Homo sapiens: one gene and its partners. The protein of the gene in region 3 purifies or fractionates together with the protein of the main gene of each other region. This does not show direct contact. Each region holds a gene or a part of one and is shown on either strand. Other genes may lie near its edges.

Region 1 (3,500 bases), on a different chromosome or scaffold from region 3:
AAGAAAGCCTAGGTTGGCGCACTGGATGTGGTAGATTGCAAAAACGGCCCCAATCTTATCCTTCACGCTTCTCTGTATCACCCACCTCTGTATCCATGTCTTTTGTCACGTAACTCTAGCACCCTCCCATTCTAACTTTAGGACTGGTGACATGACTCGCTTTGGCTAATGAGATATTTGCAAATGTGATAAAAGCAGATACTGGAAAAACATTTGCATGACCGGGTTTGTTTGCTCTTGAGTTCTGCCACTACCATGAGAATATGCCCAACTTAGCCTGCTAGAGGATGACACAGAGAAGAGAAATTTCCCCCGTCATCCAAGCTAAGGCAATTCCATACCAGCCAGTAGACAGCCGACAACAGAACAGGTACTTTAAAAACTGCCTATCCAAGCTCTGCTTAAATCATTGACTGCAGACTTGTGAAAGGAACAAATGGTTATTGTTGTCTGCCAATGAGGTTTTATAGGTGGTTGTTTTGCAGCAACAGATAACTAATATATTGGGCAAACATTCTCCATAGACGTGCATTTTTCCTTCTCTAAAATCCAAACTTCTAGGCTACAGTGCTCAAAATCTTCTGGGAAAAGGCCAATGACTAGGCTTTACCTTCTGGGAGACCGGCTCCTACTCCTCCTGTAGCGCAGTGTGGGAGAGCGACGGGGCTTGTCCAAGTCTCGGTAGCTTCTCCGGCGGTGATCAGGTGATGGCACTCTTTCCAACTGGAAACAAGATGATTGGGTCATTGAAAGGCACAGGCTTATAAAGAGCCATCTAGGAACACTAATTATACTTCACGCCCCATCTTGTCCCAAAGTCCATCTCCATGTGACTTTAAAGCACAGTAACCTGACTACAAAGAGGGAAGCACTTACCCTATTAACTAACAAAACTTATTATGAGCTATATAAGACAGCCAAAATGACTCATAGGAGAGGGAACAGAAACAGACCTGTGTGTGTGTATGTGTGTATGTTTAGTTTATCTGCAGCCTGGGCAACATGGTGAAATCCCATCTCTACAAAAAAAATACACAAATTAGCCAGGTATGCTGGCACGTGCCTGTAGTTCCAGCTACTTGGGAGGCTGAGATGGGAAGACTGCTTGAGCCTGGGAGGCCGAGAATGCAGTGAGCCACTGCACCTCAGCCTGGGCAACAGAGCAAGACCCTATCTCAAAAAAAAAAAAAGTTTGCTTCCTGGAACAACTGGGCAGCTTGGTTGTTTTCAACTTTTCAGCACCGTAACTAGTACTGAAAGAACATGACTATGCGGTTGACATTTTCCCCCTCCTAAACAAGGTTTATTCCTTAGGATAGGTGCAATTATGAAAGTGTTCTTTCTTTCCAAGTATTTAATAGCTGCCACCATTTATTAGGCAATTATAATGTGCCAATACTCTGCTAAGGGCTTTAAGTTTATAATCTTATTTAATACTTTTAACAGTCTTGGGGAAAAAAGTATCATTAACCTCACTTTACATAGGAGAAAACTAAATTTAAGTAATTTGCGTAAGATTATACTACTAGTATATGGCAGAGCTGAGGTGCTTTTAATAAGGAAATATTGTTTTTGGCTAGAGTTAGAAAAAAAATTTTTTTTGAGACGGAGTCTCACTTTTGCCCAAGCTGGAGTGCAGTGTTGCGATCTTGGCTCACTGCAACCTCTGCCTCCCGGGTTCAAGCAATTCTGCTGCCTCAGCCTCCTGGGTAGCTAGGATTACAGGCACCCACCACAACGCTGGCTAATTTTTGTATTTTTAGTAGAGACGAGGTTTCACCACCACGTTGGCCAGGCTGGTCTTGAACTCCTGACCGCTGGTCATCCACTCGCCTTGGCCTCCCAAAGTGCTATGATTACAGGCTTGAGCGACCACGCCCGGCCAATAGAGTTAAAAATTAAAGTCTAAAAACAAAAAACCATTCCCATTTTCTATTACTCCCTCCCCTACAACCATAAAAGTCTCAGGTGCCAGACCTTCTCATCCTCCTCTTCTTCCTCTTCACTGGACTCCACATCATCCATGTCCTCTTCCAGAGCACTAACTCGAGGCTCCAGTTGCTCAGCTTCCTCTAATACATAGCGTTTCTACAGAGAAAATGATGAGAGTTAGGGGTTGTTGCCATTTCCCCTATTTCTTGAAACCTCAACACTGGGCTTCAGGGTTCCAAGGAGCAACAGCTGAGGCAATTTCATTTCAAAGACAGTTCAAGATTTTCCTAACAAGTTTAATAGACCTGAAATCTATAAAGTTCTCCTATAAACATAAATACAAACCTGAAGAGAACATCTTCATTTTCTATTGACTCTATTCCCTGTACCTTATACTCTAAAGTCATGGGAATATCAATCAGTATAGGTACAGCCTAGAACCAAAAGTAAGGGCTTCACACACAGAGAAAATCCAAGGGCTAATAAGTTCATGGCTGGTAGTTCCACTAGAAGAGGCCTAGCCCTAGAGTAGTACCAAATCTCCAGTAGACCCAGGATCTCGGGAGCTGTTGATATTCATGCATTTTGAACTGGTTCCATTTTAATCTGGGATATGGCTTAGCAATGTTTATTTGAGTGGCTAAGGATCAGAGAGGCAAAGCTGATTTCAAAAATGCCAAATGGCTAAATGTAGTGGCATGTACCCGTGGTCCCAGCTCCTTGGGAGACTGAGGTAGGAAGATCCCTTGAGCCCAGGAGTTTAAGAACAGCCTGGGCAACACAGCAAGACATTGTCTTGCTATAAGAATTGGGCCCTCAAAGTAGGTTTTCAAATTTATAATCTCATTCTTTCCACTACATGCCCTACAGTGCCAACATGGAACAGGAGAGCTGTATCACACTCATTTCCTGAAAAGATGCCTCATGGATAATCGTTTATCACTAGGAAAGGGAAGCAGGATGGTGAAGGCAAGTTTAAGGAATTAATGGCTCAGTCTCCCACTCCTGGCCCTATTTTTATCTGTTTTATGTCCTGGCTTTTTACATGAAGATTAGTTTAAAAAAAACGTTCATGAAGTTAAAAACTCCCTACCTACTCTAGCTACAATACCCTTGATGTAACATCCTGAATAAATTTCTTTTTTCATGATAGACAGGTAATGTGCTGACTTTGTAACAAGGTTTGAGGGAGGCACAACTCACACATGCACCTGAACTACAAAAGGATGGAGAAAAACAAAGTTTCCTTGTTTTAAACCATTCACTTTTAAAGCCCTACCCTTCAAATATTTTATCTATTTTCCTCTCACTCCCAATCCACTATCTTGGGACTCCCAGACAGGAAGACTATTCATTAAGAGGACCCATAAGATCCACAGGCTTCAGTGTTTAAGCTGTGTGTATGTGTTTGTCTGTCTGCCCGTCTAGGAAGAGAAGGGTGACTCTGGTAACAGACTTTTATTTCTTACCTGTAGTCGGGGCAGAATGATATCACAGACTCTCTCACTGTGCAATAGTTCATCAATAAACTCATCAACATGCATCAATTCAAACTCTGCAAGAAAAAG
Region 2 (3,500 bases), on a different chromosome or scaffold from region 3:
AGCCTAAGACAGTTTGGGTTTGGGGCTGCAGGACATGGTTGGTTTAGTGCTTCGCAGTCAAGATTTCCCTTGGACCTTAGGGAAATGAGAAATATAAGAATAACATGGTGAATTTTTCATGACTAAATTTGTTCAAATTGAGAGCACTGTTTTCTTGCTTATGGGGTATTAATAGTTAGGTCTCATGAAATTGTATTGATAAAAAAAGATGGTAGTTATTTTTACCTTATGGCTTTTAATATCCTAACTAAACAAAAAATTGGTGAGTGACGCGAAATTCTCTCCCTGCCCCAAATCTTTTGGAAAATTAACTTACCCTGGAAATCCATAAAAGTGGAATGCACTGAAATACAGCCATGCAGCCCCTTCCAGTCCCAGTACTGCTCAGACCTGTGCCATACAGTACAGTAGCAGTTAGCTGCATGTGGCTATTTAAATTTCAATGAAATAGAATAAAAAATTCAGTCCCTCAATTGTACTAGCTACATTTTTCCTTTGGTCCTGGAAATGGGAAAATTGCTCTCTGTTGCAGTTAGCCTTTTTACCACTAGATGGCGAGGACGCCTCCACAAGCCCTGATGCTGTATGAGTTAGCACTTTAATAGCGTTTACCATTGGCTGTCTTGGGCACCATTGGGTGGATAGGTGGTTCCAGGGAGGGCAGAGCTGAAAGGAGAAGCAATTGTTGGCAGTTGTGGGCATCCCCAGCCCCGTTTTATAAGATTGTTTTGGTCTGTATCTCTTTTCTGACTCTGATATTCTGTCTTTGTTTTCCTTGTAGGACCTGGTGTTTTCTGCTTCCCCCGATGCCACTATCAGGATTTGGTCGGTCCCCAATGCCTCTTGTGTACAGGTGGTTCGGGCCCATGAGAGTGCTGTGACAGGCCTCAGCCTTCATGCCACTGGCGACTATCTCCTGAGCTCCTCCGATGATCAGGTGCGGTCCCAGCCAGTGCCCTGGAGAGGCCTGCTGGTCCCCAAGCTTGAACATCCTGGGTGGCAGGAACATCTTCCCACCCCAGCTGGTTCCCCAGAACCTCAAAGGAGAATGTTTGCCAGGGTTTGCCAAACCAGGGGCTCTGTCTTGCTGAAGGGCCACCAGAACCTGGGACCCACTTTCTCACTGACTCCATTGTCTCTTTTTTTTTCCCCAGTACTGGGCTTTCTCTGACATCCAGACAGGGCGTGTGCTCACCAAGGTGACAGATGAGACCTCCGGCTGCTGTAAGTTGCCTCATAGGCACTCAGCTTTTTTGTTTGCTGTTTATTATTTATTTTTACATTTTATTTAGTCATTTGTTTATTTGTTCTAAAGATATATTTACCATGAGCACCTGTCTAGTGCGGGCTTTGTGCTGGGTTCACTGAGGAATGTGAAGAACAAGGAACCTACCTTTGCTGCTCTTAGTCTCTCTCCCTGGTGGGCTCTGACCACAGGTCTCTCTTCCCTCCTCCACAGCTCTCACCTGTGCACAGTTCCACCCTGACGGACTCATCTTTGGAACAGGAACCATGGACTCTCAGATCAAGATCTGGGACTTGAAGGTAGGACATGGTAGGCCTCCATCTGAGGCCCAGGGCCAGAGGGAGTGTTTGTGACAATGCAGTGCTAATTAGGTGCTTGTGGCACCTGGCCCTGAAGGTGGAGAGACACTGGCTGTGCGTGTGTGATATGATGGTGTGGTCTGGGGGGTCCCGCTGGCTGTCCTTCCTGGAAGGACGTGAGGGACATCTCAGGTAGGAGTTTGGTGAGCCCCATTTTCTTCCTCTCATGATCTGTGGGTGACGTATTTTACTACCCACCGCCACTGTAGGAACGTACTAATGTGGCCAACTTCCCTGGCCACTCGGGCCCCATCACTAGCATCGCCTTCTCTGAGAATGGTTACTACCTGGCTACAGCGGCTGATGACTCCTCTGTCAAGCTCTGGGATCTGCGCAAGCTTAAGAACTTTAAGACTTTGCAGCTGGATAACAACTTTGAGGTGTGCCCTTCCCCCTCCGCCCAGCTTTCCATTGTGTCTCCTTGTTTGTCAATTATTTATTGAATTAATCTAATTGCTTCTGCTTATCCGCAACTGCCCCATAGTTTCTGTTCCCCTTGTGTGACCTTCTCTCTTTCTATTTCTGGCAGGTAAAGTCACTGATCTTTGACCAGAGTGGTACCTACCTGGCTCTTGGGGGCACGGATGTCCAGATCTACATCTGCAAACAATGGACGGAGATTCTTCACTTTACAGGTAGAGGCTGGTCCTGGGCTCCTGGGATCTCTCTAGGTGCCCAGGCCCGGAGGGAAGCCTCACTGGGTTAGGAATTTCTAGGGCTTGCATGAATTTACCTAAGCAGCTTTCTGTTACCACCTGAGGCAGAGCTTTATGACTAAGGAAGCAACTGAGTCAGACTGCATGGCAGTAGATGCTAGTGCTTGTTCTGCCACTTCCATGCCCTGTGGCATTGGGCAGGTTACTAAAGGGAGAGAAAAGTCCCTCTGAAGTTTTGATAACTGAATCTAAAATAAATGAACATTAGACAGTGACAGGAGGAGAGCCATTTTAATTACGTGCATATGCACGGGAGGCCCACATTATATTAGATCTGCAGAAGGGTCAGATGATTGAAGCTTATACAGTTTATATATCACTTAATAATGGGGATATGTTCTGAGAAATGTCTTGTTAGGTGATATCGTCATGTGCGACCATTGTAGAGTGAACTTACATATATCTAAATGGTGTAGCCTACTACACGCCAAGACTATTGCTATAACCTTAGTATAGTCTATTATTGCTCCTAGGCTACAAACCGGTACAGCATATTAAATGTAGTGAATACAATTATAACACAATGGTAAGTATTTGTGTATCTAAACAAGTGTAAACATAGAAAAGGTTCAGTAAAAATAAGGTATAAGAGATTTTTTTAAAATGGTACACTGGTATAGTGCTTGCCATGAAAGGAGCTTGCAGGACTGGAAGTTGCTTTCAGTGAGTGAGTTGTGAGTGAATGTGAAGGCCTAGGACATTACTGTACGCTGCTGTAGACTTTATAAACACAGTACACTTAGGTTTTACTAAATTCATAAAAAACTTTTTCTTCAGTAATAAGCCTTAGCTGACTTTTACTTTATAAACTTAAAAAAATGGATTCTTTTGTAATAACATTTAACTTAAAACTAAAACACATTGTACAGCTGTACAAAAATATTGTCTCTCTTTACATCCTTGTTCTATAAGCTTTTTTCTAATTTTTTTATTTTTATTTTTTACTTTTTAAACTTTTCTTGTTAAAAACTAAGACACAAGCACACATTACCCTAGGCCTACACAGGATCAGGATCACCAACTGTATTAGTCCGTTCTCACACTGCTATGAAGAACTGCCTGGGTAATTGATAAGGGAAAGAGGTTTAATTGACTCACAGTGACTCGGGAGGCCTCAGGAAACTTACAGTCATAGCAGCAGGGAAAGCAAACATGTCTTTCTTTACATGGCAACAGGAG
Region 3 (3,500 bases):
TGTGAATAGAGTTCAGGGGTTGATGAATTGGGACAGGGGGAAAAAAATGCATTTTCAGTGACTCTGATATTTAGCATTTCCTTCAATTATGGATGTAGGCCAGAAACTTCAGTAGTATTTGTAGTGCCTGTCACTTTGTCACCAGTAGAATTCACAGATATTGTCATCACACATCACGGTTACTTAGCTACCTCAAAATACCACTTATGCTCATCACAACTTTGAAATTACAGTGGTTATTAGACCTGCCGCTAGGGTTTGTTGCTTGAAGTGTTAACAAAGAAGTACATGCATCACTATCTCATAAATTGCTTTATAATATTTTGATAACAGGCTGGGCAAGGTGGCTCACGCCTGTAATCCTTAACACTTTGGGAGGCTGAGGTGGGAGGATGGCCTGAGCCTAGGAGTTTGAGGCTGCAGTGAGCCACGATGGTGCCACTGCACTGCAGCCTGGATGACAGGGTGAAACCCTTCTCAAAAAAAAAAAGTTGATTACTGTATAATTTATAATTGAATTTTCTTTATAAGCCTAGTTCTGTGTGTTTTGTACATTAGTCTGATGAGGGTCCATAACCTTCCCCAGAATGCACAGAAAAGATTAAGAGCCATGACAGGTGGGTGCTCAGCATGTGTTTGTTCACTGAATTAAAAAGCATAAACTAAGTCAGTGTCCATTTGGGGAAATGGGCCTAGAAGCTCCCCTCTGTCTGAGTGTCAAATGATCAAGTGACTGAGGAGCCAAATCAAGCTTCTCTATGCAGGAGCCCCCCAGGCAGGCAGAGAGCTGCTGCAGTGCAGCGTGTTGGCCAAGGCAGTTATGTTTGCTGTGACTCTGTCCTTTCTGCTGTTTTTCTTACATTCAAAGGATGTGAAATATTGGAGGGATAAAAAAAATTCCCACCCCATTCTTTTTTCCCCTTAGTAAAAACTGTGCTAGTTGTTGGAAGATTGAGTCTACTCAGTTTCATTAGCAGCAGCTTTGTAGGGACTGGGAATGTCCTGTTGTCCCAGCCAGAGGGAGGAGGAGACTTGAGTGTGTGCAGCCCACGGTGAAGGAGTAAACCAGGAGCAGCACTAATAGCTAATGGGTATTGAGTGGCTTTTTTCTTTCCTTCTACCAAGCATTGTTCCAAACTTTATGAAAGAATTCTTATTGATGTCTCCATTTTCAGGTAAAGAGACAAAGATATCCTTGCCTAAAGTCAAGAGCTAGTGAATGGGAGAATGGGTCTGGTCTCCTAACCACTAACTCTACCATGCTACTCTACCTCTTGAGTGCTAAGGTGCAAAACCTTCCCTGGGCCAGAGAAATGGTCACCGTACAAAGCCTGGCACAGAGCATGTGCTCAGATAGCACCTGTTATCAGGTGAATGGATAAAGATCAGAAGAGAAGGGAAAGACATGCCTTTCGAACAAATTAAAAGAGTAGTGGAAAACATCAAAATGAAACCAATAATGCCTCCTCAGGAAGCTGACCGTCGGGAAGGATGAATAGCAATTCAGTCTACAAATATTTCCTGAACACTTCTGGCTGGAAACCTTGGACCAATTAATGACTATGCTGTAGACAGCACATACAGACAGTGCTGGCTGCAGTCTGGGCAAGTGAGGCTCCTGCCTGGCCAGGACAGGAAGGCTGACCCAGAGGCTCAACTCTCTCTCAAAGGCTCTGTGACCTTAGGTTGCTTAACCTCTTAGGACCTCAGGCTCCTCACTGTCCACTGAGCACCCCTTTTGCAATGGCATTGTATAGTTCTCCCTTTGAAGTTCTTAAGCAATTCTGCCCTGATATATCGTCTCAGGGAGCCATTTAGTTCTGTCCAAAGTAGTGCCTGCAGAGGCACTGTGGGTTCCTCTGGCCTATCTCTCCCTTTGTAGTCATGAGGGTCCTGTGTGGCAAGTGGCCTGGGCTCACCCCATGTACGGCAACATCCTGGCATCGTGCTCCTATGACCGGAAAGTCATTATCTGGAGAGAGGAAAACGGCACCTGGGAGAAGAGCCACGAGCATGCGGGACACGACTCCTCAGGTATGCTGAGCTTGGCAGCAGAGCGGGCAAGGGGACCACTGGGTAAAAAAGGACTCTGTCCCGGCTGGAGCCCTGGCTCCCTGCCCCTCGTGGTGCCTCTTGTCTGTCTCTTGAGCTTTGGTTGGCTTTTCTGCTACTCTGTCCTCAGCTGAGTAAGGCCCTAAGACCTAAAGCCAGTCCAAAGCAAATAAGAAAAGACAGGTGAGTTTCTCTTCAGGATTATTCATTGCAAGGACTACCCTTCATTCTCAGATTGTTTTCCTACCCACTTTTTTGTTAGATAGACTGTAGGTTATGAAATCGTGGTATTAGTAGGTGATGGGGTTTTTTTGTGTCCTCAGTTGACCAAGTTACAGCTTCCCCCGGTGACTCCTACAGTTGTTTGTTGTAGACATTTAGTAAAACAGTAAATCTGTGGAAGGCGGGACCTGGGGCCGCGGTCTCCCTGCTTTGCTCACTGCACTCTCCCTCTTCCCGCAGTGAACTCGGTGTGCTGGGCCCCCCATGACTACGGCCTGATCCTGGCCTGTGGGAGCTCGGATGGGGCCATCTCCCTGCTGACTTACACCGGGGAAGGCCAATGGGAAGTAAAGAAGATCAACAACGCTCACACCGTGAGTCCATCCCCTGCCTTTCGTGCAGTGAGAGCGCCTGCCTTGCCCCGTGTCTGCTGCAGCCTCCCTAGAGGGTGGCACGGGAGGGTCCCCGCTGGACAGTGGGCCGGGGAGTGGTCAGCTGACCAGACATGATTGCTCTAGAGCAGCTTTGAGCCTCTCTGCCCTGAAGCCAGACCAGGCAGGGCTTGGCACTGCTTCCTTGTTGTGTGCTCCCAAGCAGGGGAGGGCTGGTGCAGCAGCAGCCTGCTCACTGCCACCTTAGCTATGGTTGCCTCCAGGTGACATGCCCTGCAGTAGTCATTGGGACCCTGTAGAATGGAGTGGTGTTATTAAAACTTTTAAAAAGTATGTGAGCTATGCATACATTTAAGAAAGATTAATATAAACAAGGTCATTCTTTACCCAACTTTTGGTGAATCAGCGAGTGACAGTGGTCGTGATGTTGGTGGTTCAATCAAGGAATAAATGTTTGCAAAGCGAACATCAATGTCCTACCTCCTACCACCACACAGTTCAAAAACCAACAATAACCAATGTGGGGGGCTCATATGACTAATGCCACATCGTTTGCTGTCATGCATCTGTATGATTATTGGATATTTTATGAGTTTAATTCTACAATAATTTGTATCTATTCTTTTTCTAATCTACTCATTCCAGTTCAGGGTCACAGGTGGTTGGAGCCTGTCCTGGCAGCTTAGGGCATGAGGCAGAAGCCAGCCCTGGACAGGATACCATTCCACCAGAGGAGCACTCACACACACCCCCACACTCACACTGGGACAATGCAGACGTACCATTGAAGTGAACATGCACATCTTTATTGTGTGAAAGGAAACCAGAGTACCA
Region 4 (3,500 bases), on a different chromosome or scaffold from region 3:
CTGAGGTCGGGAGTACAAGACTAGCCTAGTCAACATGGTGAAATCCATCTCTACTAAAAATACAAAAAAATTTAGCTGGGCATGGTGATTCACGCCTGTAATCTCAGGTACTTGGGAGGCTGAGGCAGGAGAATCTCTTGAACCCGGGAGGCAGAGGTTGCAATGAACTGGGATCACCCCACTGCACTCCAGCCTGGGCGACAGAGGGAGACTCTGTCTCAAAATATATTATTTATATGTTTGTATATATTATATATATATTAAAATCTGTAAATATGTATATAAAAATCCTTATGTATGTAATACTTGCTTATCAAACAAAATTCAGAAAATACAGAAAAATGGAAAGAAGAGGGAAAAAATTGTCTTTAGTTCAGCTGCGGAAAGAATGCCACTATTCATAGTTTGGTCTATTTCCTTTGAGTCTCAGGTGTATTAATTTTTTAGGTAATTGTAGTTAGCAGGATACTAACAGACTTTCAATTACTGTTTATTGAAACTTAAGCATTTTTCATATAATTGTATCCACTTTGTTTGATTTTCCCACTTTGTGTTATAAATAATTAAAGACAGTGAACACAGGACCATAAAACTGAATTTCATGACTTAAATAGTAGTAACTAACATTGATTGAGCACTTAGGCACCAGGCCCTGTGCCTTGCATTTTATATGCATTACTTCCATCTTCCTAACAGTTTATATCAAGTCAGTGTCGTCATTTAGAGGAAGAAACCAATACTTTAATAACTAACTTGCCCATGGAGGCTAAAAAGTAGATTGAATTTAAACCTTGATCTCTCTGACTCCATACTCTTTTTTTTTTTTTTTTTTTTTTTTTGAGACAGAGTCTTGCTCTTGCTCTATTGCCCAGGCCAGAGTGCGATGGCACAGTCTTGGCTCACTGCAACCTCTGCCTCCTGGGTTCAAGCGATTCTCCTGCCTCAGCCTCCCAAGTAGCTGAGATAGGCGTGTGTCACCATGCCCATATAAATTTTTTGTATTTTTAGTAGAGATGGGTTTTTACCGTGTTGGTCAGGCTGGTCTCAGACTCCTGATCTCAAATGATCTGCCTGCCTCGGCCTCCCAAAATGCTGGGATTACAGGTGTGAGCCATTGTGCCTGGCCTGACTCCATACTCTTAACCACAGTGTCATAGTCGAAGATATGCATATACTAGGTTAACTTCATTTTGTCCTTTAGTGTACCTGAGGGCTTGGAGGGAGTGTTTTTGTGATAAAGTCATTAAACATTGAGCTGATATATAAACGAATAAGAATATGAATTCAAGGTTGTATCTTCCAAACTAGGGGAAAAAAGGGTATTTTATTCTTGAACTAGTTGCAAGAATAGGATGCTTTTGGGGTCGTCCATAGTCTGGGTGTCTTCTGCATGTTTATGGTAGAAGACGTGAAGAAAAAGACAATCCAATTTATGTTTTGTTTCTACAACTAATTTGTGAATGGGAGACTAGTTCATAAATATAATATTTCTTTCATTAAATATGACTGAAATAAATAATGTCAAGTGGTATTTCAGAACATTACAAATAAATTGTTGGGATTTCCAAGTTTCAAAGATTGTTCTTGTAGGCTAAAGGATCTTGTGAATTAAGCCAAAAACTAAGTTTGATATAGTTGAAGAATAAACCACGTTTTTTAAATGTTGTTTAAATTAGGCAACAGCTGTTTACCAAGCGAAGGAGAAACTCAAGTCAATAGAAAAAGCAAGAAAAGGTTAGTATCATGGGAAGACTGAATGACCTGAAAAGTTAAGGTTCTGGTTTCAGGAAACCAATACAAGAGGATATTACTGATAATCATTTGCTGCTGTTGAAAAGATTCAGTAAATTTTTATTGTAAAGTGTGTTGTGTTCTAGCATTGTGCTGGGTTTTGTGAGGGAGGTAGAAGTATCACATCTTTTTTCAGATTATAAAAAGCAATTAATACAAGGCAGTTTATGGCTGTGTGCCCAAATGTGCAGTAAAAACAGTGAGTTTATAAAATTGGTGGGAGAGGGAAAGAGAAGTATGGGTTAGAAGTGGGATTTGTACCAAATCTTGAAGGTTAGGACAGAGAGAGTGAAAAGACATCCATTGGGCAACTGCGCTGGGACTGAAACATCATGAAGTCAGAGCCAGACGTACATGAAGTCAGAGCCAGTTATACCCTTGGCATATAAGCACATTTGGTGGTGCAGAGGCCCACATGCCTTCCTGCCCTGCTGTCCCTTTTTCAAAGGCTTCTGTTAAATAGCTAATACTCCTTTTTTTTTTTTTTGAGACGGAGTCTCGCTCTGTCGCCCAGGCTGGAGTGCAGTGGCGCGATCTCGGCGCACTGCAAGCTCCGCCTCCCGGGTTCACGCCACTCTCCTGCCTCAGCCTCCCGAGTAGCTGGGACTACAGGCGCCCGCCACCACACCCGGCTAATTTTTTGTATTTTTAGTAGAGACGGGGTTTCACTGTGTTAGCCAGGATGGTCTTGATCTCCTGACCTCGTGATCTGCCCACCTCGGCCTCCCAAAGTGCTGGGATTACAGGCATGAGCCACTGCGCCCAGCCAAATAGCTAATATTCTTTTGAGAGTTAGGTTAGGCTTCTGTAGCAAGAAACAAATCTCTAGGAGAGATGGCTGAGGCTGGCTGTTGACTTCTAGACCGTTGTTTGATTCTGTTTTTAATCTTCAAAAACTGTACACACATACACTTTGTTACATTGAAACAGTATCTAAAGTTTGTAAAATGAAGTGTGTGGTTCTCACTTCTCAGAGGTAACTATTAATGTTTGGTATATGTCCTAGATTTTTTTTTTCTAGATCTGTGAGTATGTATGTAATAAAAATACAAATACACATATGTACATACATTTTGAACAGTCGGGTCATACCGTACATATTATTTAGCAGTTTAGTTTTTTTTTTTACCTAATGAATACATTGTAGACATCTTTCTATTTAGGTCTACTTAAGAGCCTTAGGGCATATTGATCGAACAGAGTGGTGTGAACTGTCTGCTCTGATTTCATAGCTTGGATGTCTTTGAGAAATGAAACACTGTTTTCTCTATTTTATTTGTGCTCACTATGCTTTCAGAAGAGGAATGGTATTTAACGGTAGTTAATAATTGAGATTATTGAGTGCTATGGTGCTAATCTCCGAAATTTGTTTATGTCAGCTAATTTTTCTGGATTAGTGTCCTGTTTTTGGAGATTTAAGTTTATACTAAACATGTAGGTATTGTTAAGGAAGGCAGGTGACTGAGATTATTTTATTTTCAGATAATTTAAAATTAAATACGATGTGTAACTGATAGATACATTTCTAAACTTGTATGTTTGTTAGACTACAGGTTATACTGTCCTCTTAAAACTCTTTCAGGTGCTATCTCCTCTGAAGAAATAATTAAGTATGCACATAGGATCAGTGCAAGTAATGCTGTATGTGCTCCACTGACCTGGGTTCCAGGTAAACATACTCGTCTTATTATACTAGATATATGTGGTTT
Region 5 (3,500 bases), on a different chromosome or scaffold from region 3:
CCACCAACACTATAAAGGTGCCAACTCATTCTACTTTCTGAGGCACTGGATAGTTTTTAAATCTCTGACACTCTGGTAGGCAAAAAATTATGTTTAATTCTTTATAACTAATAAGACCCTATTATTAATTAGGTTGAACTCCCTCCCTTGTATCTAGTAGCCAGCTTTACTTGCCCTTCTGCGAACTGTACACTCAAATCTTTATTGTTTCTCTCATGCATTCTTGTTTTTTTTTTCTTTTTTGAGACAAGGTCTTGCTCTGCTGCCCAGGCTAGAGTGCACTGGTGCAATTATGGTTCACTGCAGCCTCAGCCTCGACCTCCTGGGCTCAAGCATCCTCCTAGCCTCCCACTTCAGCTTCCCTAGTAGCTGGGACCACTAATTTTTTTCTTTTCTTTTTTTTTTTGAAACGGCGTCTTGCTCTGTGGCCCAGGCTGGAGTGCAGTGGTGTGATCTTGGCTCACTGCAACCTCTGCCTCCTGGGCTAAAATGATTCTCCTGCCTCAACCTCCCCAATAGCTGGGATTACAGGCATGCGTCACCATGCCTGGCTAATTTTTATACTTTTAGTAGAGACAGGGTTTCATCCTGTTGGCCAGGCTGGTCTCGAATTCCTGGGCTCCATCGCCTGCCTCAGCCTCTCAAAGTGCTGGGATTACAGGTGTGAGCCACTGCTCTTGGCCCTGTCTCATGCATTCTTATGAGCTCTTTACACACAAATGGTTTTAACCCTTTAACCCTTTATCTATCTATCTATGTATCTATCTATCTATCTATCTATTTATCTATCTATCTATCTATGAGATGGAGTTTTGCTCTTGTTGCCCAGGCTGGAGTGCAATGGCACGATCTTGGTTCACCACAATCTCCACCTCCCAGGTTCAAGCAATTTCCCGAGTAGCTGGGATTACAGGCATGTGCCACCAAGCCCGGCTAATTTTGTATTTTTAGTAGAGACAGGATTTCTCCATGTTGGTCAGGCTGGTCTCAAACTCCCGATCTCAGGTGATCCACCTGCCTCAGCCTCCCAAAGCGCTGGGATTACAGGCGTAAGGCACCCTGCCAGGCCAACCCTTTAACCCTTTAAAGGGTTGTTCCAAACCTATGTTCCTAATTTATCATAATTTTGTATATGATTTTTTTATTTATTCAAATATGTTTTTATTCTTTGTCATTTCTTCCACTATTTTGTGCCTAGAAAGTCCTTCTTCCCCAGAAGAACTCCTAAGGTTTTAATGTTTTAACCCTAAGTTGGAGACCAATACTCAAACAATCTGACTCGTGTAAAAAAAAGCTAGTGAAAGAGTCAACCTGAAAGAAGCCTGTTTGTTCTCTGCCAATGATGGAGTACTTGTTAAGTGAGATTTTTATCTTTTTAATGAGAAAAGCTTGTCTAGGACATCTTACAAGAACAGTGTGAAAAAGCACATTTCTAAAACTGAAGAACCTGGCAGTGGCATGGTCATTATTTTTAGAAAGAGGGGAAGGGGAGTGTGTGTGTGCTGTGACACGTTGTTAGAGAAATAAGGCAGATGCAGGACTGCTAAAATAACAGGGTTCAGAGACTCACATTTCCATTTGCACTGATCTTTAGTTCAAAAAAGGAGACAGCCACAAATTAGAAAAGTAATTTCCATTATATCTTCTTTGAGACAGTAATGGGTAAGGTTAATAACTAAAAATCCCTTATTTGGCAGGCTATTTTAACTTGGCTGTCAATTTAATTTCCTTCTGCTGTATGCAGAAGAGTCATTATCCTGGTAGCTGGTTTAGCAGCCAATATGCATAGAGATGGGTAGAGGACATGATGGTAAGAACAATCTACCTGCTAAGGCACTGACAAAGCGATACTAAGAATCTAATTGGAAACTGCTTCAGCATTTCCCTTCTAGAACTTCTGAAAAATAACCTCAAGACTATGAAGATATATAGATTTATAGTTTAATCCCTTAAGGTCAGGGCAATAAGCAAGTTCTCTAACCAAGCAGGAGCCCCTTCTGCTGCCTGTTCAGAGATATGCAAGAAATGTACCTCCAAAGAATCTTCTGGGTTTACTGATTCACAAAAATTTTCATTAGCTTTTAGTTCAATTTAATAAGCAAATAATGAGTGCTATCATGCAAAAAGGAAACATTTTTCTGTGTTGGAAAGTACCTTAGTGACTGAACATTAACTCTGTTGATATAAAGAACTGGTAACCCAGAGAAGTTAAAGGACTTGTCCAAACAGCAAGTTACTAGAGTGAGTGTCGGAAATTGGAGTAAAAATCAAAGTAAGCAAAATGTCTTATCTCCTAGTGCCAGGTTCTTTCCACTACATCACTGGCTTTCATGGTATAGGTTGAGTAACCCTTATCTGAAATGCTTACGACAAGAAGCGCTACAGATTTCAGACACTTTTGGATTTTTGTAATATCTGCATTATTTCTTTGCACAACTATTTGCGCATCCCTAATTCAGAAACCCCAAATCCAAAATGCTTCAATGAGCATTTCCTTTGAGCATTATGTTGGCACTCAAAGTTTTAGATCTTGGAGCATTTTGAATTTCAAGATTTTCAGATTAGGGATACCCAACCCGATTTTTTTTTAGACAGAGTCTCACTCTGTCGCCCAGGCTGGAGTGCAGTGGCGTGATCTCAGCTTACTGCAGGCTCCATCTCCTGGGTTCACGCCATTCTCCTGCCTCAGCCTCCTGAGTAGCTTGAACTACAGGTGCCCGCCACCACACCTGGCTTTTTTTTTTTTTTTTTTTTTTTTGTATTTTTAGTAGATACGGGGTTTCACCGTGTTAGCCTGGATGGTCTCGATCTCCTGACCTCGTGATCCACCCGCCTCGGCCTCCCAAAGTGCTGGGATTACGGGCATGAGCCACCGCGCCCGGCCACCCAACCCAATTTTTAAAAATAATAATTATTTTTTAAAAAACAAAAGTAATGGCCAGGCGCGGTGGCTCATGCCCGTAATCCCAGCACTTTAGGAGGCTGAGGTGGGCGGATCACCTGACGTCAGGAGTCCGAGACCAGCCTGGCCAACGTGGTGAAACCCCGTCTCTACTAAAAAATACAAAAAATTAGCCAGGCGTGGTGGCACACACCTGTAATCCCAGCTACTTGGGAGGCTGAGGCAGGAGAATCGCTTGAACCCAGGAGACAGAGGTTGCAGTGAGCAAAGATTATGCCACTGCACTCCAGCCTGGGCAACAAGAGCAACGCTTCGTCTCAAAAAAAAAAAAAAAAAAAAAAAAGTTCCTACCCTGGGAGGAAAGGCAAAATTGGGAGTTTATTGTTTAATGGGTACAGAGTTTCAGTCTTGTTAAGACAAAAAGAGTTACAGAGATTGATTGTATAACAATGTATTTAACATGAGTCAACTGTACATGTAAAAATGGTTAAGATGGTAAATTTTATGCTAAATATATTTTATTTAATTAATTTATTTATTTTTGAGATGGAGTCTCACTCTGTCGCCCAGGCTGGAGTACAATGGTGCAATCTTGGCT
Region 6 (2,367 bases), on a different chromosome or scaffold from region 3:
CTTTCCGCCTCAGCCCCTCTAGTAGCTGGGACTACAGGTACGCACCACTGCGACCAGCTAATTTTTTTTTTTTTTTGAAAGATGTGGTTTTGCCACGTTGGTCTTGAACTCCTGATCTCAAGTGATCCGCCTGCCTCAGCTTCCCAAAGTGCTGAGATTATAGGAGTTAGCCACCACGCCTGGCCCTTGATGTTTTCATACTATGGGTTATGATCCATTAGTCACTCATGAAAACATCAGGATACACTGTAGGTGAGGATACAAATTTTGTGAAACTTTTCTTTTGGTTATATATGTGTATGTAGGTCAAAATGTCTTTCTTACTGTCGTTGAAAGCCACAGGTTTAGAGAGCTGGGAGGACAGGGGCTCTCCCAGTCCCTAATTGCACCAAATGCCTCGTATTAATCATAGTAGAGCTAAAATGAAAAAAAAAAAAAAAAAAAAAAAAGAAACACACACCTCAGTATCTATCAACAACAGTACCACAGAGAAACTCACATTGTTAATTAAAGTATATAATGTAAATATGGTATTGAAAGTATAAAAATTAAAGGCTTCTGAAAAACTCAAGAAGGGTCAAAAGGCTATACAAGCAAGTAGTATACAGATTGTTTCCTTAAAAGATAAATTTTAATATACAGAATAAAATCCAAGATGATTTTATTATTTTTCACTTTCCCAAAACTTGTGAGCATGAATGCTTCTAAATCTGACCAATGAAGTTTACATTTTGGTCCAATACATTATGAGACTAACTTGTATGATCAAGTCCAGCTTGATTATCATAAATCATAGAAGTTAACAATTTACTCTGAGAATCTGTTGCTAATATAGATGATGGATTTCCAATTTTTTCTTAGCTAAGAATTTACTCAACTTTAGCTCAGAACCAGATTCAAAATATCTTCTTTAATTAGCTGGTCATCATTTTAGGCTTAATCTAGGCAAATTATTTAATACTCAATTGAAGATCATATAAAACCTCCAAAATAAATAAAAAGTACACAAAATTATTAGCTTTTGTGTACAATACAGAAAATACAGGTCAGTTCTGGACCAAAATAATTGCATTAAAATACAAAAGGTGATAGGGAAGAATTAAAAGATTTGCAGTGACTGCTTTTGGTGGTCAGCTACAACAAGCCAACAACCCTCAGCTATTTTGGAAAGTGAAGGTGAGTCTTAATTTGCAGATAATGAATGTCTTCGGTAGTTTAAAAAAATATAAACTCTAAAAAAGCTCGTGAATCATATACAAAAGCAGCTATTTGAGACCAAGGTTGAACACCAGAAATTGTGTTAGCACCACCAGCAAGCACAGGGTCCTCTGACTCTTCCGCCCTCCTATCTTGTGCAGAATGCAGACTTGAATGTTGTACACATCATTTACAGTTACAAAAATCGGCCTTGAGTACAGGGTTCCTGTAGGGTAGTCTTAAGTCCTAAGAGGCACCAAGCGGTTACAAAGGCTAGGTGACAATCCAAATCACAAGGTCCGACGATATAATAAATCCCGTGTTGCCTTATCAACTTTTTGCTGGTAGTCCTCCAATTTGTCAAGTATTTTCTGGGACAGCTATAAGAGAAAAGAAGGAAAACATTACATAACAGCTCAACAATGGAAAAATATTGAAGTTATTAATAACTTTGACTTCACCAAGTAGATTCCACCTTATAAAGATGTTAGCCACTCTGCTTCATAAAATCACCATTTGTTATAGGAGTCTCCTCTGTGACTCTACTGATAAAACTAGGCCTCTCTGTTATATACAACATTTCAGTCTCATTTTCTGAATGAATTTTCTAAGTATGGAAATCGTACCAGTATTTCTAATAAAAGGATCACTAACTCTTTTCTCAGAACCAGAAATGCTGCATCTGATATAACTAGTTATTAGCTGCCAAGTGAAATATAGAACTAATATTTTAGATAGGCTCAGGAGGCACTCTATCTCACTGGTAAACAAAATAAGCCATCACTATAATGACTCAAGGAAACACTATTGTTTTTTATGTTAAGGCAAGCAGGGTGAATATATGACTCCTGAGAAATGTTGTTATATATGCCAACTTCCCTCAGGACAGTGATAATTTATCACACTGTATTTCTTTCTTTTTCAGGGTGGGGGAATGGAGTCTCACTCTGCTGTCTAGGATGGAGTGCGGTGGTGCAATCTTGGCTCACTGGAACCTCCGCCTCCTGGGTTCAAGCGATTCTCCTGCCTCAGCCTCCCGAGTAGCTGGGATTACAGGTGCCCGCCACCATGCCTGGCTAGTTTTGGTATATTTAGTAGAGATGGAATTTCACCATGTTGGCAAAGCTGATCTCGAACTCCTGACCTCTCAGGTAATCTGCCCGTCTCAGC
Region 7 (3,500 bases), about 90 Mb from region 3:
TGCTTCACTGAAAACTTTTATCTCTACCATGAAACACACCTGCAGCTACTTGCAATGAAACCTCTCCATTGACTGGAATCCTGTCAGCATTAAATACCAGATACATAAGAAAATTATTAAAATATGTACAACCCTGCATTAAAAAAAAAAAGGATTGAATGAATTTGAGTATATTCTGAACTCACCTTGAACCTGGGTTCAAAATTTACTCATGAAAGAAACCTTTATGACATAGTCCATGAACAAAACTGGAAAAGGTCAGAGGGAAACTGGCAAACCAACAGTGTCAAAGATGGTCCAATGTTACCACCACCACCTCTTAGTCTCCAAGCAGAGTATTTAGTTGACTATTTCCATATCTCTCAATCAAATTCAAGTTAATAGACTAGTAGGATCAGAAATACAAAGATAATAATTTGAAAAGACTAAATTTTACTCAGAGTGAAGACCCTGACTAAATTTATTAAGAGCAAGCTTAGTTCTTAATAAGTAAATCAAGTATCTTTAACGCATTAACTCATGGTAGCATCTAAATACTGACCTGAAACCAACTCATAAAAAATTCTGAATGTCATACAAGTTCTCCTATCCTCTACATAAAACTTAAATTTTCACTATAAGGTTTTGAAGAAATAGATGGATTCAGCTTTATACTGAAAATGCCTATTCATTTTAACACTGCGAGAAAAAAGAAAAGTGCCTTTTCATCCTGGCACCTGAAATCTGAATTGTTTTTTTTTAACTGGGCCTGGAAGTAATCTGATCCTTAATTATTGCTTAGGGGAGGGAATAACCCTACAGGCTGAAGATTTCATTAGCAGCCCACCAGTCTCTTGAACATAATGTGGCAATGCTTCTATCATGTGTGTGTGTGTATATATATAGTCTCCCTTCCGTCCCTCCAAAATAATAAATAACTTTAGGTGAAGGACATCAGAAATAGCAAAAAAATGGAAATATGGAAATTATGTGAGTTTTTTTTTTAATACATAGGACATCTAGCCTTTTATGGAGTAAGTCTGCCAACTCCAGTCTAGGTTGTAGAATGCAGAATGATACAGGGAAATACTGAACTGATCCAGCTCCCTCCACTGAATGGCTGTATGTGCTTTGACAAGTCACAATCTCTTTCAAAACTAGTTGCCTCATTTATAAAATGCAAACGCCTGAGTCCCACACCCAATCAAATGAAATTCAAAATCTCTGGGAATGGGGCCCCACACATAGCCTCCCCCAGGTGATTCTAAAGCATAGTGAGGACCGAAATCCCGAGATTAAATGATGACTAAATCTCTTCAGCTCTGCTATTCTTTCTATAAATAACATAGTTTGTAACACTGATTTTTTTAAAAGAACTGCATCCTAAAAATAACCTTCCTCCTGATATAATCCAAACTTAAGTTCTATGTATTTTATACAATTAAAAACAAGTAGCTACAAGTTAAGTCACTCTACAGCAAATACAATCTAAATAAAATTGTGTCAAAATATTTCAAATTTTAATTAATGACAGAATGTTATGGTCTAGGTCAGGAGTCAGCAAACTTTTCTGTAAAGAGCCAGATAGTAAATAGTTTAGGCTTTGTGGGCCACATGGTCTTCTGTTGCAACTACTCAACTCTGCCATTCTAGTGCCCAAGTAGCAGTAGAGAATATAAAAGTAGAAGTGTGTTCCAATAAAACTTTATTCAAAAAAACAGGCAATAGTCCAGATTTGGCCTGTGGGCTATACTTTACTGACTCCTGCTCTAGCTGATACCACAAAACTCTATAAAATAGAATTTAGACTAGATTCAACCTGCATAAATTATTTCTAATTACAGTTGAAATTCTGATACTTCAATCTTTGGCTGTAAAACAAGAGTTGGACACAAACTCTCTGACATAACTGTAAAAAATACTGGAATTATAGCCAAAGTTACATTAATAATATTTATCATACTTAAATACATATAATCTTCAGTGGACAGATGGTAAAATAGAAACAAAATACTCAGGATGCTTATTTAAAACAACTAAACAATGTTCTTAGTTGCCTGAATTACATTTTATACGATTTTATTTTTATGGCCTATTTCTGGTATTCCTACATACTTGCAAGAGATTTTAAAATCTAAGTAGCTTAATTGAGCTCTTATTTAAATAACATCACCTTTCCATGTATAGTAAACTGTTCATATTTCTACAGGTACTAAGAGTACACTGGAATTACGTGTTACATATAAATGGAGAGGTGGAGGGAAGGGGGAAAACTTGCACTAAGTCGCCTAAGAGATAAACTGATAATGTTAGTAAGACAGCTTTGTATTAAAAACTTTTTATACTACAAGTTACTGCAGAATCATCTACTGTAAGTTTTATCTCCCCACCAGAAAACTGAAATGTTGATTTACAATATTAATGTAAAATATTTAAAAATAAATAAAACAAATGTTGTTTCCCCTAATAAAAACTTAATACCTATTATATCAATGTACTACAAATCAAGGAATTAAGAACTTAAAGTTTAATGAGTATAGAAACAAAAAACCATGAGCCAACTCCCTTTCAACACCTGCTCACCTGAATACTGAATACCATACTGTTGAGGCTGCTGAGGTGGAGCCTGCGGCTGCTGTGCACCATAGCCGGCCTGTTGCTGGTACTGTTGGTACATCTGACCTGAAAACACACACACACACACACAAGGAAAAAAGGCATGTTTAATGTGGCAAAGAGAAATATTTTTAAGATACATATACATTCCCTCTCCATCCAAACAGAGTAACAATATACAAGAAAGTATTTGTTCAACTTTAAATGTCTATGAAGAAGAGAATGAACCATTTTAGAAGTGTGATTCCTCTGCTGTGGATTAACTGCAGAGAACTAACTGGCAATAAACATTAAGTGCAACACCAGTGGCTACCATTTCATAAAGTCTAGAAAAACAAATGTTTTCCAACCCAGCTGCCAACAGATAAGTAACGCTAATGTTCATTAAAAGCCAAGTGAGTTGAAAATCAGTAAATAAAAATGAGAAAAGGGACAAATACCATTTATATCATCTAAGTCCTTCCTAAAGCACTGTATTTGCCCTCTAAAGGTATGGGCCTCTATTACCATATGAACAAACTCTTTGGTAGCAAGGAACTATATGACATCTTTTGTTCCAGAGCTGAAAGACACTTTTGGAATTTGTCAAGTTTGATTTTCTATGAATATCCAACATCTTTTGCCAATAACGTGGACTCTAATAAAGTCTAAATGGTTCTTCATTGCACTATTTAATAATGGCAGACCTTTTTAACAACGGTGATGTGTTCTTGAACATGGGAGTCCTATTTGTCCTATTTGGGGTCAACAACCACTGTTCCTATGAAGAAACCCTTTAGACACTTATTACCTATGATTTTTCTTTTTACTTTTTATTTTTCTGTCCTCACAATCTGTTCCCATACCTGTGATTTTCAAGCAAAGATTTATTGGTTTATGTCTTTATTATCTCTACTTCTCAATTA

What was found.
Region 1: the proteins of SEC13 (region 3) and PRPF38A purify together in Homo sapiens (affinity purification with mass spectrometry; 3 studies listed by BioGRID and IntAct, with this or other methods). This does not show direct contact.
Region 2: the proteins of SEC13 (region 3) and PRPF19 fractionate together in Homo sapiens (co-fractionation; one large-scale study listed by BioGRID). This does not show direct contact.
Region 4: the proteins of SEC13 (region 3) and MED4 purify together in Homo sapiens (affinity purification with mass spectrometry; 2 studies listed by BioGRID and IntAct, with this or other methods). This does not show direct contact.
Region 5: the proteins of SEC13 (region 3) and KLHL12 purify together in Homo sapiens (affinity purification with mass spectrometry; 3 studies listed by BioGRID and IntAct, with this or other methods). This does not show direct contact.
Region 6: the proteins of SEC13 (region 3) and NUP160 purify together in Homo sapiens (affinity purification with mass spectrometry; 6 studies listed by BioGRID and IntAct, with this or other methods). This does not show direct contact.
Region 7: the proteins of SEC13 (region 3) and TFG purify together in Homo sapiens (affinity purification with mass spectrometry; 3 studies listed by BioGRID and IntAct, with this or other methods). This does not show direct contact.

The regions. Positions count from the first base shown.
Region 1 is NC_000001.11:52,411,102-52,414,601, reverse strand, and holds part of PRPF38A (pre-mRNA-splicing factor 38A), read right to left. Parts: intron 3,488-3,500; coding exon 3,402-3,487; intron 3,161-3,401; exon of another isoform or gene 3,080-3,160; intron 2,089-3,079; coding exon 1,978-2,088; intron 724-1,977; coding exon 611-723; intron 1-610. UniProt on the Homo sapiens protein: Involved in pre-mRNA splicing as a component of the spliceosome.
Region 2 is NC_000011.10:60,896,586-60,900,085, reverse strand, and holds part of PRPF19 (pre-mRNA-processing factor 19), read left to right. Parts: intron 1-781; coding exon 782-937; intron 938-1,154; coding exon 1,155-1,224; intron 1,225-1,459; coding exon 1,460-1,545; intron 1,546-1,814; coding exon 1,815-1,985; intron 1,986-2,134; coding exon 2,135-2,240; intron 2,241-3,500. UniProt on the Homo sapiens protein: Ubiquitin-protein ligase which is a core component of several complexes mainly involved pre-mRNA splicing and DNA repair. Required for pre-mRNA splicing as component of the spliceosome.
Region 3 is NC_000003.12:10,311,113-10,314,612, reverse strand, and holds part of SEC13 (protein SEC13 homolog), read left to right. Parts: intron 1-1,882; coding exon 1,883-2,034; intron 2,035-2,514; coding exon 2,515-2,648; coding exon of another isoform or gene 2,649-2,783; exon of another isoform or gene 2,784-3,037; intron 3,038-3,500. UniProt on the Homo sapiens protein: Functions as a component of the nuclear pore complex (NPC) and the COPII coat. At the endoplasmic reticulum, SEC13 is involved in the biogenesis of COPII-coated vesicles.
Region 4 is NC_000013.11:48,081,605-48,085,104, reverse strand, and holds part of MED4 (mediator of RNA polymerase II transcription subunit 4), read left to right. Parts: intron 1-1,676; coding exon 1,677-1,734; intron 1,735-3,373; coding exon 3,374-3,460; intron 3,461-3,500. UniProt on the Homo sapiens protein: Component of the Mediator complex, a coactivator involved in the regulated transcription of nearly all RNA polymerase II-dependent genes.
Region 5 is NC_000001.11:202,903,235-202,906,734, forward strand, and holds part of KLHL12 (kelch-like protein 12), read right to left. Parts: intron 1-3,500. UniProt on the Homo sapiens protein: Substrate-specific adapter of a BCR (BTB-CUL3-RBX1) E3 ubiquitin ligase complex that acts as a negative regulator of Wnt signaling pathway and ER-Golgi transport.
Region 6 is NC_000011.10:47,777,618-47,779,984, forward strand, and holds the end of NUP160 (nuclear pore complex protein Nup160), read right to left. Parts: intron 1,578-2,367; coding exon 1,488-1,577; 3' UTR 501-1,487; downstream 1-500. UniProt on the Homo sapiens protein: Functions as a component of the nuclear pore complex (NPC). Involved in poly(A)+ RNA transport.
Region 7 is NC_000003.12:100,743,994-100,747,493, reverse strand, and holds part of TFG (protein TFG), read right to left. Parts: intron 2,662-3,500; coding exon 2,563-2,661; intron 1-2,562. UniProt on the Homo sapiens protein: Plays a role in the normal dynamic function of the endoplasmic reticulum (ER) and its associated microtubules. Required for secretory cargo traffic from the endoplasmic reticulum to the Golgi apparatus.